Regions from separate parts of the Homo sapiens genome. Here region 1 is linked to region 2. The links come from fine-mapping of genetic effects on gene expression. Tissue or cell type: skeletal muscle. Region 2 holds a variant in brackets; the other region holds the start of a gene. All regions are shown on one strand. Distances are from middle to middle.

Evidence for each region.
Region 1: APOL5 starts here. The variant in region 2 is fine-mapped to the expression of APOL5 in skeletal muscle (GTEx, PIP above 0.99).

The regions. Positions count from the first base shown.
Region 1 is chr22:35,714,297-35,722,637 of GRCh38, forward strand. APOL5 (apolipoprotein L5) reads left to right here and starts at 3,576. Exons shown (of 5, transcript NM_030642.1): 1 at 3,576-3,630; 2 at 6,272-6,358. The coding sequence starts at 3,576.
Region 2 is chr22:35,681,494-35,689,834 of GRCh38, forward strand. No RefSeq gene overlaps it. Among named protein-coding and RNA genes, the nearest start is that of APOL5, 32 kb to the right of the region's middle. The variant A/C (reference allele first, on the strand shown) is at 4,430.

The DNA.
Region 1 (8,341 bases), 33 kb after region 2:
GCAAGATTCTGTCTCAAAAAAATAAAAATAAATAAAAATCTGCGTTATCCCTCTGGGCCCTGCAACTCTTAATGGGTCCAGTTTTGTGGTCAGTCCAGGCACTGTTATCTGGTTGTGTGGTTGAGAATTCCAGAAGTGCCTAGATTTGTTTTTGGCCCAGCCATGCCTTCTCACTATGTGGCCCTCGAGGGAGATATTAGCATGAGGGACAATGGCAAACAGTAGTAGCAGAAAAGGACAATGCCTCGTTTTACCCTTCTGGCTTGGGGCTGACTCTCCAGAGCAGAGCTCTCTGGCAGAATGGACTGAACTACCTGGCTTAGGTCTACGTGAGCCTCTCCCTGCCTCTAAAACCAGACTCCAAGTTCAGGATCGCTGTGTCCTCCAGCAATGAATGCAGGGTGTCCGACTGAGAAGAGTTGAGAAAGCAAGATAAATGAACTGGGGCCAGTGGATCCCTTCTTCCGTGTTGAGAGAGGAGGCAGGAGAGAGGAGCAAGCTCCTTGCATCTGTGTGTGATCCCTGAGCACAGTGGCCACAGCCTCCACTGAAGGTGGCCTCCTGGGTGTCTTGTAATGGAAACCACTCAGAAGAGTCTAACGCCCTGTTTGGGAGACGTGAGTCAAAGCAGGGGGAGAAGGGTAGTTCTTTCTCGCTCTCAGTGTGATATTCTGAGCTTTCTCATGGAAGATGCATTTTTAAATTATCAGAAATTGATCGATTATGAAATATGATGATTCGTGAAACATCTGTGTACATAATCAAACACAAGATGATGTTGTTTGACCTCTCATCCTATGCATAAAGCACAAAAGTTGCATAGGAGATGAATTTAACTGGAAGGGAACTATGAGCCCATTTCATGGACAGACCCAGAACCTGTCCAGTGGTTCTCCCACTCCCGCTATATGATCATCCTCTGCCTTTGCTGGGTCTCAGCCCTGCTCACTCCCTTCTTGCCTCCTCCCCAAAATAAAGTCTAATAGAGTCATCTCCCAAGATCTATTCTAGCCCAGGACAGCAGGGAGAGCTGAGCAAGATTTTAAACATAAAAAACTTAGTGTCAGCTGGGCGTAGTGGCTCAGGACTTTAATCCCAGCACTTTGAGAGGCTGAGGTGGCCAGATGGATCACCTGAGGCCCAGGAGGTTGACAGCCTGGTCAACATGGTGAAACCCCGTCTCTACTAAGAATGCAAAAATTAGCTGGGCGTGGTGGTGCACACCTATAATCCCAGCTACTCGGGAGACTGAGGCAGGAGAATCGCTTGAACAAGGGAGGCAGAGGTTGCAAAGCCGAGATCGTGCCACTGCACTCCAGCCTGAGCCACAGAGCAAGACTGTGTATCAAAAATTAAATAAATATATACATACATACATAAAAAAACAAAACTTAGTGTCATGAATGATGAGGTCTTATTCTAAGTGTTGTTCTGTATCTGTCATTTACTGGGTATACACAGAGTAGGCAGGAAAGCGCAGATAACACACATCTCTGCCTTCAAGGTGAAGCTCCGGGCTGCCACAATAAACCACTCACTGCATCAGCTGAAACCTCTGCACTGTACCTATCTATGTAGAGCATAGGAAGAGAGCAAAGAAATAAAAAGCAGAATGCCTAAAATAATGGGACAAATCAAAGTTGAATAATTATAACAAAAAATAATTAATATGAATATGAATAACATTAAGAAAAGTATCAAATTGGGTCAAAATCAGATCTGAGTAATTTTCTACATCCAAGAGATAACCTGAAATAAATAGGACACAAAAGGCCAAAATAACAAGTTAGAAAAACTTACATAGAACCAACAAAAAAAGAAAACAATATTAACATTTAACAGTATTAATTTGTCAGATTTTGTCTTACCATGTACTTGGCAGCATTCCCTGCACCAAATGCATTACTGTACAAGTGGGAGATTTTATGATAAAATAATGAATAATAAATCTCATTACTAAAATCTTTTTATTCTATTGGCTTTTTGTTGTTGTTGAGACAGAGTCTCGCTCTGTCACCCAGGCTGAAGTGCAGTGGTGCAATCTCAGCTCACTGCAACCTCCGCCTCCCGGGTTCAAGAGATTCTCCTGCCTCAGCCTCCTGAGTAGCTGGGATTACAGGTGCCCACCACCACGCCTGGCTAATTTTTGTATTTTTAGTAGAGACTTGTTGGCCAGGCTGGTCTCGAACTCCTGATCTCAGGTGATCCACCTGCCTCAGCTTCCCAAAGTGCTGGGATTACAGGCGTGAGCCACCGTGCCTGGCTTCTATTGGCTTTTATTATAAAACTAACAAGTTACTTTGGTAACAAAGCTCAATAATATAGATGAGTGAAAAGTGCAAAAGTATTTTGTCACCCTAGCCCTAAATCTCCCTCCCTGAGCTAAGCCTGTTCACATTTGGTGTATCTCCTTCGAGAATATTCCCCTACTCCTACATCACATATATAGTACTTAAAAAAAATAAGAAAAGAATATAAAGAACATATTCTTCAACCTCTTTTCTTTTACTTAATATATCCTGGACCTCTTTCTAGGTCAGTTGTACATAGATTTGCCTCGTTCCTTTTCACATCCATAAACCTTTATTTTGTATTGCTCTATTTTCATGTAAACAGTCCCCGGCATGGATTTTTCAAATTGTTTCCATTTCTTTATACAACTTCAAATAACTGGATGAACATCCATACACGTTTGTCTGTTGTGTTGTGTTGTGCCGTTGTGTTGTGTCCGTGGTGGGTGTATTTCTAGAGGTGGGATGCTGAGTGTCAGGCACATGTACTTCTCATGTTAAGAGACATCCCAAGAAGGCCAGGTGCAGTGGCTCACACCTGTAATCCTAGCACTTTGGGAGGCCAAGGAGGGTGGATTGTTTGAGCTCAGGAGTTAGAGATTAGCCTGGGCAACATGGTGAATCTCCATCTCTACAAAAAAAAAAAAAATATATATATATATATATATTAGCTGGGTGTGGTGGTGCACACCTGTAGTCCCCGCCACTTGGGGGGCTAAGACAGGAGGATCACTTGAGCCCGGGAGGTTACTGCAGTGAGCCGAGATTGTGTCACTGCACTCCAGCCCAGGTGCCAAAATGAGACCATCTCCAAATGAAAGAAAAAAAAAAAAGAAAGATACCCTAAATCATCCTTCCAAAAGCCATAGCAGCTGAGCGCAGTGGCTCACGCCTGTAATCCCAGCATTTTGAGAGGCCAAGGCGGGCGGATCACCTGAGGTCAGGAGTTTGAGACCAGCCTGGCCATCATGGTGAAACCCTGTCTCTACTAAAAATACAAAAATTAGCCAGGCATGGTGGCAGGCACCTGTAATCCCAGCTACTCAGAAGGCTGAGGCAGAAGAGTCAGTTGAACCTGGGAAGTGGAGGTTGCAGTGACTGAGACTGCACCACTGCACTCCAGCCTGGGCAGCAGAGAGAAGCTCCATCGCAAAAAAAAAAAAAAAGAAAGAAAAGAAAAGAAAAAAAAATAGGTGAGGACTGGGAGAGACAGGTTTCAGGCATGGAGAAGGGAGTCATATTTATTAATCATATTATAAGCTTAAATTTTAAAAAATCTAAAGCATGCCATGTGGCAAACAAGGAAATTTGCAAGTTCCCGGTTCCAAGGTGTTACCTGGTAAGTTCTTTTAAGCTTTCAGAAAACAAGCAATTCTCACGTTGTACAAATTGTCCCAGAAATAGAAAAAATACGTTACACTATTTTTTATACCCACCATATGCTATTGCTGGGTGGAGATATAGCAGATCCTTGGTTTTAATGAGGGAGATATCATGAGACCCTCTCAATTGCTCAGGTTTGAAAATACTACATCAAATAACTTCCTTTGTAAAGTTTAACTAAAAATGTAAAGTTTAACTAAAAACATAAGCAGCTCTTTAAGCCCCTGCTTGAAGCAGTGTGGCAGCGGGGAAGGGGTCAATCACTGGTTCCATTTCTGGTTAAAGTAGAGGCAGCAGGCAGGACAAGGTGGCGACATTATCAAAGAACTCATCTGGATATCAAAACTGTTATGACCCCAAAGCACGGTTGGGCGCAGTGGCTCATGCCTGTAATCCCAACACTTTGGGAGGCCAACATGGGCAGATCACTTGAGGCCAGGAGTTCAAGACCAGCCTGGCCAACATGGTGAAACCCTGTCTCTATTAAAAATACAAAAAATTAGCCAGGCTGGTAGTGCACACCTGTAGTCCCGTTACTCGGGAGGGTGAGGCAGGAGAATTGCTTGAACTGGGAGATCGCGCCATTGCACTGCAGCCTGGACAACAGACAGAGACCCCGTCTCAAAAAAAAAAAAAAAAAAAAAAAAGACGCCAAAGTGCCATGATAAGGGAGTGTTTCTATAAACATGACAATACATCTTCTCTTAAGGAAATAGCATAGAGTCATCAAAAATAATAGTTATAACAACTGTATAGCAAGATGGAAAATACTTGTATAACATTACATTTTAAAAACAGGGCACGTGGCCAGGCACAGCGGCTCATGCCTGTAATCCCAGCACTTTGGGAGGCCAAGGCAGATGTATCACCTGAGGTTGGGAGTTTGAGACCAGCCTGGCCAACATGGTGAAACCCCCATCTCTACTACAAATAGAAAACTTATCCAGGCATGGTGGTGCGCACCTATAATTGCAACAACTCGGGAGGCTGAGACAGGAGAATCACTTGAACCCAGGAGGCGCAGGTTGCAGTGAGCCGAGATCGCACCACTGCATTCCAGCCTGGGTGACAGTGAGACCGTCTCAAAAATAATAATAATAATAAATAATAATAATAAATAAAAACAGGACACACCATTATAAGTATAAAAGCCATGCGAAAAATAATACGGATTTGAAAAATAACGGGAAGTAGAGAATGAAATCAATAGTTATGTTGCAGGAGAACTAGGGGTGATTTTTGTCAAATTATATTTTTTGTCAAATTTGACTATCTTTTTGTCAAATTATATTGAAAATACATTTAAAGTGATTTTTGAGCAACAAAAGAAGCTGCAATGTGAGAGAGAGTGTCTGAACAAGGTGGACTCTGCTGTGTTGCCTGCCTGGGTAAAACCAACCACCATCCCGCCCACGAGCCTTGTCATCAGGCAGGTGTCATTCAGCAGGGACTGGACTGTGCCTCTCTCAGGGCTATAGATGATAGGCACTGGACAGAATGAGCGTTCACTTGCTCCCAAGTTAAAAATGTTATCAATTAACATGGCCCCGATTGTCTTGGTGCCTATCATTGTGTTGTTGGATGATTCTCAGAAGACTTTTGTGACTTAACGAAATGGGAAAAGTTCCCTTATCCCCCTTGCACAGTATAAAACGGGGTGTGGCTCACTTCTTCGGTGCCCTGCGGCTCAAACCCCTAGGGGGAGCATGCGGACCGGCAGGTCTTGGGGAGCGTGGGCTCCGACCCCACAGCAGCCCCATCTAGGGTTGAGTGTTTGCAGCTCCCGAGCCCCAGTGAGCTTATCGGAAGGACAAAGCAGAGGGTCTAATTTCTGTACTCCAGGGTTCTAACCCTAGTATGCCAGAAAAATTGGATCACACGTGGGCTTGGAGAGTGAGTGCAAGGTTTTATCGAGTGTAGTTCTCAGCAGATGGATGGGGAGCCAGAAAGGGGATGGAGTGGGAAGGTGGTCTTCCCCTGGATTTGGGCCACTCAGCGGTTCTCCTCCAACTGCCTTTGGCTAAATTCCATGTCATTCAGCCGTGGATGACCTGTCAGCATCCGCCGGTGTATTCTTCTTCCTGTGTGTTCCTCTCGATGTCCAGCTACTTGTGTGTGTCTGCCTGTTAGGTGGGGATATGGCGGGCCAGAGTGGTCTTAGAAAATGCAGCATTTGGGAGCGAAAGCAGAAATGCTTGTCCTCACTTAGATCCATGGGCCCAGGCCCGAGGGTGGAACCCTCACCGGGGACCATGCCTTTATGTAAGCAGCACTTCCCTGCCTGCTCCCATATCATTAACGTATAACGTCAACATTTCAAAAGTGCTTTACCAATCTACTTTGCCACTAGAAGCCTAAGCGATTTCCAGTTTTATTGCATCCTAGTCAACCTTGGGCATTCCCATGGTTTGTTTGTTTAAAATCATTAGACAAAAATCATGTGACATTTCTGAGACATTAAGATTTTTGTTGTATTCTTTTTTTTTTCTAATTCTCCAATATTGTAATTAGACAGCCAACTTTCCCGGAGCACTGTTATGTCTTTTCGGGCTGAGATGACTCAAGAAGAAATGTCCCTGATCCTTGTCCATCTCCAGGCTTGGGAGAAGGTTGTAAAGAAATGTGGCTTCGAAAGGTAATCTACGGAGGTGAGGTCTGGGGGAAGTCCCCAGAACCTGAGTTCCGTGAGGGCAGAGAACAGGCTGTTATGCTTATGGCCACAATCCCAGCATCCAAAACAGTGTCTGTCACAGACCCAGCACTCAATGAGTATTTGGGTTTTGTTTTGTTTTGAGACAGAGTCTCTTCTCTGTTGCCCAGGTTGGAGTGCAGTGGCACGATCTCGGCTCACTGCAACCTCTGCCTCCCAGGTTCAAGTGATTCTCCTGCCTCAGCCTCACGAGTAGCTGGGATTACAGGCGCCCGCCACCACGCCCGGCTAATTTTTATATTTTTTGTAGAGATGGAGTTTCCCCATGTTGGCCAGGCTGGTCTTGAACTCCTGATCTCAAATGCTCCACCCGCCTCGGCCTCCCAATGTGCTGGGATTAGAGGTGTGAGCCACCGTGCCCAGCTGTCAATAAGTATTTGAATGAAGGAATAAAATCTGATTGTTAATATCCAGATCTGTAGCCACCTTCATAGGATGAAACATACAAATGGGTTCCAACCAAGTTGGCTGAAGTGTTGCTCATGTTGTCTCATGTGCAATTGGAGATATGCAAAAAAGATAAAATGTACACATCCGCATAAAAAATATCTTAGTAAAAAAAATGTAAAACCTTTGGTAAGGGCAGGCACGGTGGCTCACGCTTGAAATCCTAGCACTTTGGGAGGCCAAGGTGGGCGGATCGCTTGAGGTCAGGAGTTCAAGGACAGATTGGCCAACATGGTGAAACGTCATTTCCACTAAAAATACAGAAATTAGCTAGGTGTGGTGGAGCATGCCTGTAATCCCAGCTACATGGGAGGCTGAGGCAGGAGAATTGCTTGAACCCGGGAGGCGGAGGTTGCAGTGAGCCAAGATTGCACCACTACTGCACTCTAGCCTGGGCGACAGAGCAGGGCTTCATTTAAAAAAAAAAAATCCTTTGGTAATGGTAAGTACATTGGTATACTGATAGATGCCCAGACACATGGCTTAGAGGGCAATGGAATCCTAGAAGCAGAATTTGCTGGTTTTCTCCCAATCCAGGAATATTCCTTCCTGGGTCTGCCTTCACCCTTTCCCAACCCATGATAATGTCTGAGTCTTGCCTTGAGATCCAAGCTCCTGGGACTTCCCTTTCCGTTGCCTTGGCCTGGGCATTCAGACTCTCCCACAGAGCTCAGCTGCAGCAATAGACTCACAACAAACTCTGCTGCCTAACAGAGGTTGCACTTAACTCTTGCCAAAGTGTCCATAAGGTTCTCTAAAGTGGGTTGCAATGCTCCCGCAATTTATAGCAACCAAATGCCTAAAGATAAAATCTTCATGCGTCATGCAAATGGGTTGCCTGCGCTTTCAGACACAGGTACAGTTATTGACTTCTCTGTGTCCTTGGCCCAGCCTCCCTCTACTGTTCTCTCTCCCACCTCCACTGTCAAGATTTCCCCCCAGTGCTCCCGTTAAGTCTGAGAAAGCTCCCCAAAAAAGGCATTGACTTTTCAGGCACAGGCACAGCCATTTTTCTTATCCGTGTCCTTGACTTTGGCTACTGGCCAATGCATGCTGCATGGACTGGAGTTAACAGGGGCCCTTCCTATGTGCTTGTACAATGTTAACCTCTCCTCCTTTGGTAAAGGGAAAGGGATGATTTTTCCTATCTTGGGGAAAATCAGCCAGTGGTTGAGGCAGACTAGAGGCTTCAGGAAATGGAGTCTCCCTCTGTCGCCCAGGCTGGAGTGCAGTGGCGCGATCTCGGCTCACTGCAACCTCTGCCTCCCAGGTTCACGTGATTCTCCTGCCTCAGCCTTCCGAGTAGCTGGGACTACAGGTGCCCGCCACCACACCTGGATAATTTTTGTATTTTTAGTAGACAGGGTTTCACCACGTTGGCCAGGCTGGTCTCGAACTCCTGACCTCAAGTGATTTGGCTGCCTAGGCCTCCCAAAGTGCTGGGATTACAGGCATGAGCCACTGCGCCCGGCCCTAGGTTCTTACCCTAACTCCACCACTAACTCAATTG
Region 2 (8,341 bases):
TAAAAGTTAAAAATTAAACGAAAACTGCAATTACTTTTGCACCAATCTTTGTTGTACCACAGTTTGTTTATCTATTCATCCATTTGATGCAGGGTTTTTGCTCCTTAGTTCAGCTAAATCCAGGTTTTTGTCTCACGACCAAGAAAAATTAGGCATGCAGACACATTGAAGGGTGAGGTGGGCAGAATTTACTCAGTGAAAGGAAAGCTCTCAGCAAAGAGAGGGGCTCTGCAAGCAGATTTCCATTTCACAAATTGAATACCGGAGCCACTAGACACAAGCTGAAGAGGTCAGGATCCTCCCCTGCATAAAGTGTGAATTTCTGGTAGCTCCACCCCATTCCCCCAGGGCATGTGGGCCTCCAGTCTGCTGTGGGTATGCCCAGGCAAGCTCCCTGTGCAAGTTCCCTTATCTGCATAAAGTGTCTGGTGATTACATCTGGTGATTTCATCTGGTGTAACCTGGGGTGGGTCGGAGTTTCTCCAGGGACCCTTTCCTATCTGCCTCAGCATTTGGCCATCTCCTGCCTCTATCACATTTACACTTGGGTTGCTTCCTCCTTTTAGCTATTGTAAATAGTGTTGCTATAAACACGGGTGTACTCTTACTGGTATATTTTAATGTACAAAATTTCTTAGTGAAGTCCAAGTTATAAATGTTTTCTTCTATCTATCAGTTCTTTTAATGTTGTGTAGAATATTTGCATATCCCTAGATCGTGAACATATCCTCCTCTGATTTTTTCTGTAAGTTTTATTGTTTTATTTTAAGCTTTAAATCTGTCATAATCAGCAATTGATTTTTATGTGTGATGTGAGGAGGGAATCAAGATTCACTTTCTTTGGCTGGGCACAGTGGCTCATGCCTGTAATCCCAACAGTTTGGGAGGCTGAGGTGGGTGGATAACATGAGGCCAGGAGTTCAAGACCAGCCTGGCCAACATGGTGAAATTCCATCTCTATTAAAAATACAAAAATTAGCCAGTCATGGTGGTGCGTGTCTGTAATCCGAGCTACTCAGGTGGCTGAGGCATGAGAATCACTTGAACCTGGGAGGTGGAGGTTACAGTGAGCCAATATTATGCCACTGCACTCCAGCCTGGGAGACAGAGTGAGAACTTATCTCAAAAAAAAATTTCACTTTTTTCCCATATGAATATCTAATTGATCATCACCATTTGTGGCAAAGACCTTCCTTCTCCTACTGCATTGCAGGGTGCCTTTGTTGTAAATGAGGTGGTGGTACAAACACAAGGTTAAACAAATAGACCAACAGAACTTATACAGTTTGTTTCTGGATTCTCTGTTTTGTTCCATTGGTCTATTTGTCTGGCCTTGTGCAATACCATACTCTTAATTACTGTGGATTTACAATGAATCTTTTAGATCTTGTGATGTAAATTTTCCAACTTGTTCTTTATCAAGATTGCTTTTGTTACTCTAGGTCGTTTTTATTTCCATATAAATTTTAGAATCAAATCAACTTGTCAATTTCAATAAAAATATCTGCTAGTGTTTTATTGAATCTATAGATCAATTTGAAAATAATTGAATTCTTGACAAAACTGAATTTTTCAATTCATAGTATCTCTCCAATTATTTAGGTCTTTCACTTATTTTAACAATGCTTTGTAGTTTCAGTGTCATGAAAATTATTTCCTGGATATATTCTTAGGTATTTGATGTGTTCTAATATCATAAATTATTTATTTCATTTTATTATTGTTTGTCTCTTAGTATGAAGAAATACAATGCATTTCTGTATACTGACCTTGTATCCAGGGAGCCCACTAAATTTATTATAATCTAATGGCTTATCCGTAGATTATTTTAGATTTTCTACATGTACAATTACAGTTGAGCCTTGAACAACATGGGTTTGAACTGTATGGGTCCCCTTATATGCAGATTGGAGAAGGGATGAGAGAGAGCGAGAGAGAGAGAAGGAATGAGAGAGAGAGAGAAGTGATGAGAGAGAGAAGGAGAGAAAGAATGAGAGAGAGAGACAGGATGAGAGAGAGAGAGAAGGACAGAAGGAATGAGAGAGACAGGAGAGAAGGAGTGAGAGAGAGAAGGAATGAGAGAAAGAGAAGGAGAGAAGGAATGGGAGAGAAGGAATGAGAGAAAGAGAAGGAATGAGAGAGAGAGAAGGAGAGAAGGAATGACAGAGAGAAAGAGAGAAGGAATGAGAGAGAGAAAGAGAGAAGGAATGAGAGAGAGAAGGACAGAAAGATTGAGGGAGAGAGAAGTAGAGAAGGAATGAGAGAGAGAATGACAGAAAGATTGAGGGAGAGAGAAGTAGATAAGGAATGAGAGTGAGAAGGAGAGAAGGAATGAGAGAAAGAGAATGAATGAGAGAGAGAAGGAGAGAAGAAATGAGAGAGAAGGAGAGAAGGAATGACAGAAAGAGAGAGAAGGAACGAGAAAGAGGAGAAAAGGAATGAGAGAGAGAAGGAATGAGAGACAGAGAGACGGAGAGAAGGAATGACAGAGAGAAAGAGAGAGAAAGAATGAGAGACAGGAGAGAAGGAATGACAGGGAGAGAGAAGGAGAGGAGGAGAGAAACTGACATGGACTCTGGTGGACATTTGTAAAACATCACAGCCACCCAGCACTTGATCGGTAAACTCACTTTCCCAGCCACCAAGAAGCTGGAATGAAGACATAGGTGATCTGCCCTGGGATGGAATTGGAAGCTGACTTGGAGCTGGATGCAGTAACTGATGTGTCCTGATCCCCTTTTGAAAAGAGTATTTTTGTGTGTATGTGGGCTAAAAGGGGTTTATAAATATTATTTTCTGTTACTTTGTTTTGTTTATTTAAGTGTGTGTGTGTGTGTGTGTGTGTGTGTGTGTACTTGCTGATGTTGGGTAGTCAAAGGCTTTGTAGACTTTGGTGATTCTTTTTGCCCAGTAAACACTTTTCCTCCATTTGGGGGCGCTCCCTGCTCTATAGCTCTTGGTGGGATGTGGCAATAGCCTCTGACTACAGAAATCAGATACTCATTCCCAGCCTCTCTTGATGCAGAGATGCAGCCAAACAGATGTACCCATATTAGACTTCAAATCATGAGCTCCCTCCAGAATCTATTCTGGGGATAATGGCAGCAGTTACATCCTGTTTCCAGAGCCAACAGCATAAGAGGCTGTAGTCGTGTATCCAGCATTGGTCACGTTGGTGACAATGGTGCTGAAGTCAGAGCTGTCTGTGCCTACCAGTGCTTCCCACTAAACCACTTTTCAGTGTGATTTTGGGTGCTGTTCCTGAGGGTGTTTCTTCTGGACACAGATTGTATATAGGCCATTTTTCCTTCTCTCCTAGAGAGCTTCTGAGATACCTAATATTTGGTAATACATTGCTTTTCTGATTAAGCTAGTTTGGGTTCACTTTGTTAGCAGCTAGGAATGCTGACTGGTTCAGGAATGAATTAGGTCATAAAATGAAAAGTCCAGCAATGTCCCTGCTTCAGGTAAGGTTGGTTCTAGGTGCTCAACTATATACTAGGACTTTTTTTTTTTTTTGAGACAGAGTCTCACTCTGTTGCCCAGGCTGGAGTGCAATGGTTCAGTCTCAGCTCATTGCAACCTCCACCTCCCAGGTTCAAGTGATTCCTGCCTCAGCCTCCCAAGTAGCTGGGATTACAGGCAAGTGCCACCACACCCCACTAATTTTGTACTTTTAGTAGAGATGGGGTTTCACTATATTGGCCAGACAGGCCTTGAACTCCTGACCTCAAGCGATCCGCCCCCACCTTGGCCTCCCAAAGTGCTAGGATCACAGTCATGAGCCACCGTGCCTGGCCTAGGACTCCTGTCTCTCTCAGGTCTGCTTTCCTCCACGTGGGTTTCTTTCCCAGGAATGACCTTTGTACAACATGGAAAAGATGACCATCAGAGATCTAGATTTGCCTTGTCCTTTAACTAGCAGCCCCAGAGGGAAGGGCGTCCATCTTTCCTACCTATTTCTCCCACAGAAGTCCTGGGAATGGCTCTGCCCAAAGCACCAGCATGGCAGAGGTTCTGCAGTTAGTGTCTGAGAGCCTTAGTGTTTCAGCAATTTTTTTCACAGCTTCCCTAGGTCACAGAAATACTGAACAGTTCAATTACCAAGTGGCTAGGTCCAAATGGTTTGTGAACCTCTGCAATCCACTCATGGGATAGGCCGGCTGAGTCAGGCACCCACCTCTGCAAAGGAGGTGCACCCACACTTCCAGGAAGAAAATTATGATGGGCAAAGTATAAAAGATATCCACCATTCCTCTGTCCTGATGGAACAGCCTTGGCAGGCCTGTGTCTGGTAGATATAAACAGAGTGTGCGCGTGTGATAGGTAGCATATGATCAGCAGAAGAGCTGGCCTGGGTCTGGGGCTCTGTGGAGCGCATCTGGTTTATTTATAGGTTGCTCGTAACCCAACCTGGATCCTATTAAGT[A/C]ACCTGTAAAAACAAGCCACACCACCGAACATGGAGGTCCAATGCCGATTCATGACCCTGAGAGCTCCATCCTGAGGGGGCGGGCCCGGAACGTGAGTACTGCATTTGGAATGAGGGATGCGGAACCGTGGGAAGGGACAAATCAGTTGCATTTATCTTTCCTTTTTTGCCCAAAAACCCAATAAACACACCTCTTCCTTGTTTAGTTCCTGTGCTCTGAGGGTGAATTGCAGCATGTCTAGAATGAAACTGAGCGGTTGTACTAAACTTGCTGCCTGGCACTGATGTTGCCCAAGGCAGGAAAGCCGGTGAATAGTGTCGCTTTGTAGGCAGGGGGGCAAGGAGGAGTTTGGCGTGGTTTGTACCAACTTGTCAGCATTGTTTATTGATAACAGTAAGACTGATTTTCTCCTGGTGAGACCCCCAGAGAGCTGTGCTGCAGAAGCTAGTTATGTAACAGGAATTTGTGTATGTGACCTGTGAAACATAAAAAACCCCAGCCGAGACTCTCTTTTGGGCCCCTTAGTTCTGTGGTGCTCTGTGCACCTGCCAAGGGTTCTGTATCTGAAAGAGGAAGTGCATTTTGCCATGACCATACAGTAGAGAGGACAATAGAAACCCAAACCGGCCCTGCCAGACCCCTTGCTGTGAGCTGGCCATAGCTGTGATGCACATCTTCTTCTTTTTTTTTTCTTTGGTCTCTGTTGCACAGTGGAGTCCAGTGGCATGATCATATCTCATTGACGCCTCCAACTCTTAGGTTTAAGCGTCCTCCCACCTCAGCCTCCTGGGTAGCTAGGACTACAGGGGTGTGCCACCACACCTAGTTTTTGTTTGTTTGTTTGTTTTGTTTTGTTTTGTTTTTCTTGAGACAGAGTCTTCCTCTGTCACCCAGGCTGGAGTGCAATGGCATGATCTCAGCTCACGGAAACCTCTGCCGCCTGGGTTCAAGCAATTCTCCTGCCTCAGCCTCCCAAGTAGCTGGGATTGCAGGTGTGCACCACCACACCCAGCTAATTTTTTGTATTCTTAGTAGAGATGGGGTTTCATCACGTATGCCAGGCTGGTCTCAAACTCCTGACCTCAGGTGATCCACCTGCCTCAGCCTCCTAAAGTGCTGGGATTACAGGCGTGAGCCACTGCACTCAGCCCAGGCCTAGTTAATTTTTAAATTTTTTGTAGCAATGGGAATCTCATTCTGTTGCTCAGGCTGGTCTCGAACTCCTGGTCTCAAGCAATCCTCCCACCTCAGCTCCCCAAAGTGCTGAGATTACAGGTATGCACCACCATGCCCTGCACACATCCTGACTTTAATGTTAGCTGTAGAGTGCTCCTTTCTCTTCAAGAATCTATAGATTTGTAAGCACTGTCATTTGGAGCCCTATAAATCATTAGCAATAAATCCTGTAACTGGCACTCTTAGTGCAGTCCCTAAGGTTAAAATGACTCGATTCTGTCTAATTGGGCTGAGAAGGACATAGATGTGTTAGTCTCTAGTTTCTCAAGCTAATCCACATGCCATTCTGCTGATAGAGGATTCGCATTCAAAATATCTATAGATATTGCCAGATTCTCATGTCTATCAGTAACGTGTGGACAGGCCTTTTGCACTACACTGTCATCAAAATTCGAGGTGCTCAATCATTTGCATTTTTGCCGTCTGAGAGGTGAAACATTTGATGTCATTGCCTGCACTTGTACTTGGCAAAATCAAGCATGCCAGGAAGGGAGTGTAGCTTGCCTATCTCCCTTGGTTTCCTGAGGAGGTTGCCAGAAGTGTAGTGCTCTCAGCAGCCCCTACGGAGTGAAGAATCCATTATTTCAGAGGAGATCAGAGCAAGCCAGAACTTGTGGTTTTACAATATTTTAGTTTGGGGTCAAGGGTTGATCGGCATTCAAGATTCATTCTTGGGCTGGGTGCAGTGGCTCACACCTGTAATCCCAGCACTTTGGGAGGCTGAGGGGGGTGGATCACTTGAGGTCAAGAGTTCAAGACCAGCCTGACCAACATGGTGAAACCCTATCTCTACCAAAAATATAAAAACATTAGCCGAGTGTGGTGGTGTGTGCCTGTAATCCCAAATACTTGGGAGGCTAAAGCAGGAGAATCACTTGAACCCGGGAGGCGGAGGTTGCAGTGAGCCAAGATCACGCCACTGCACTCCAACCTGAGTGACAGAGCGAGACTCCATCTCAAAAAAAAAAAAAAGATTCGTTCTTGTGACATATAAGGGAATGCTTCTATATCACAGGTACATCCCACCACATCCCACTACTTACTGCACCATCGCACCCACTTGAGGTTTCAGTGCAGCAAGCCTGACCATGCCCTACCACACCTCACACCTTTTCAGATCTGTGGTCCATTTTCTTTCTGTCTGCCTATACTTTTCTTGTTAATTTGTAGACACTCTTTACATATGATGCATATTAACCCACGGTCTGTCACATGTACTGCAAATATATTCTTCAGTCAGTCATTTGCCATTTTACTTTCCTTGTAGTTTTTTTTTTTTTCTATTCAGAGTTTTAAAATGTGACATAGACATTTTCCTTTAGGTACCTGGATTTCATGCCATGCTAAGAAAGGCCTTTATTCATCCAACATTATAAAAATGTCCTACATTTTCTTCTGGTATTTTATACTTTTATGTTTTATGTTATCAAATAAGAAAGGATGCTATTTGTTATATAGTATCATGTTATGTTTGTATAGCTATATGTTATTAATATAAGTGTTCCAGAAATTGTATGAAATTCCTAGAAATCTGATATATCCTGGTATAATGTTATCAGCTTTAATTCCAGTTATCTTAAAATGTCATATACCGCATGAATAACTAAATTTTCTTATGAAAATTCAGATGAACTCTCATGAGATCATTAACCATGGCCATTTTAATTTTTTTTTCATCCACCAAGCAGTTATCATTTACTCTGATGCTTTCCTGAAAGCACTTGCAAATCGCTATGACACAAAACTTCAAGAGATTCATAAAAAAAAGACTCAAGCACAGGTGTCTGATAACTTTTAAATCACACTGTTGAACCCATTAAACTGGGGTTGTTCTTAGCCTTACAGCCCTGTGAATGGGAGCTGGATGACTTCATAGAGACTTCAGAGAAATTGCTACAACAGTTTATACCTGGACAACCTTGGTGCCTGAGGCTGTGTTGGCCACACAGAAAGTTCACCAGAAACCTGATGATATCACCAGAGACATCCAAGCTGCAAGCCGGGAACACCCATCGGATTGAAACTGCCACACCAGAAGAAGAAAAAACAAATGCTATTTCTATATGAATACATCAGGAATAGATGCCCAAATCTGGGATCTTTAGAAATATAAAAGGCCAGGTCCAGGTGCTCCACCAGACGTGGGAAATACCGTCGACTGATCTAGTTAAATCAAGAGATTAAATCTCGGCTCTTGGGGACCCTAGTTTCAGGGTACTTTCCAAACTCTTGGCATTATCCTGTCATTAGTCCTACTGATAACATTTCCTATATGTTGCTTCTCTCAAGAGTCTTAAATGCTTGTGAGCAGCCACTGACTCATCACATGATCTCAGGAGGATGGAGGAACAAAAACTGCTTCAGTTGGAATTGTCAAAAAAAGAAAAAAGCCTACTGAAACTCTGCTTCACAGTCTTCAGACGGCCATGGAGACAAAGACATGTGGAAACCGAGTGTAGCGCTAAGCAGTGGGTCACACTCTGAGTCCGACTGAGAGAATGACCCAAATTGGGCAGTTGTTAAAAAGAAACAGGAAAATAGATGACCAGGTGTGGTGGCTCACACCCGTAATCCCAGCACTTTGGGAGGCCGAGGTAGGTGGATCACTTCGCCAACATGGTGAAACCCCCTCTCTACAAAAAGTACAAAAAAATTAGCCTTGTGTGGTGGTGTAC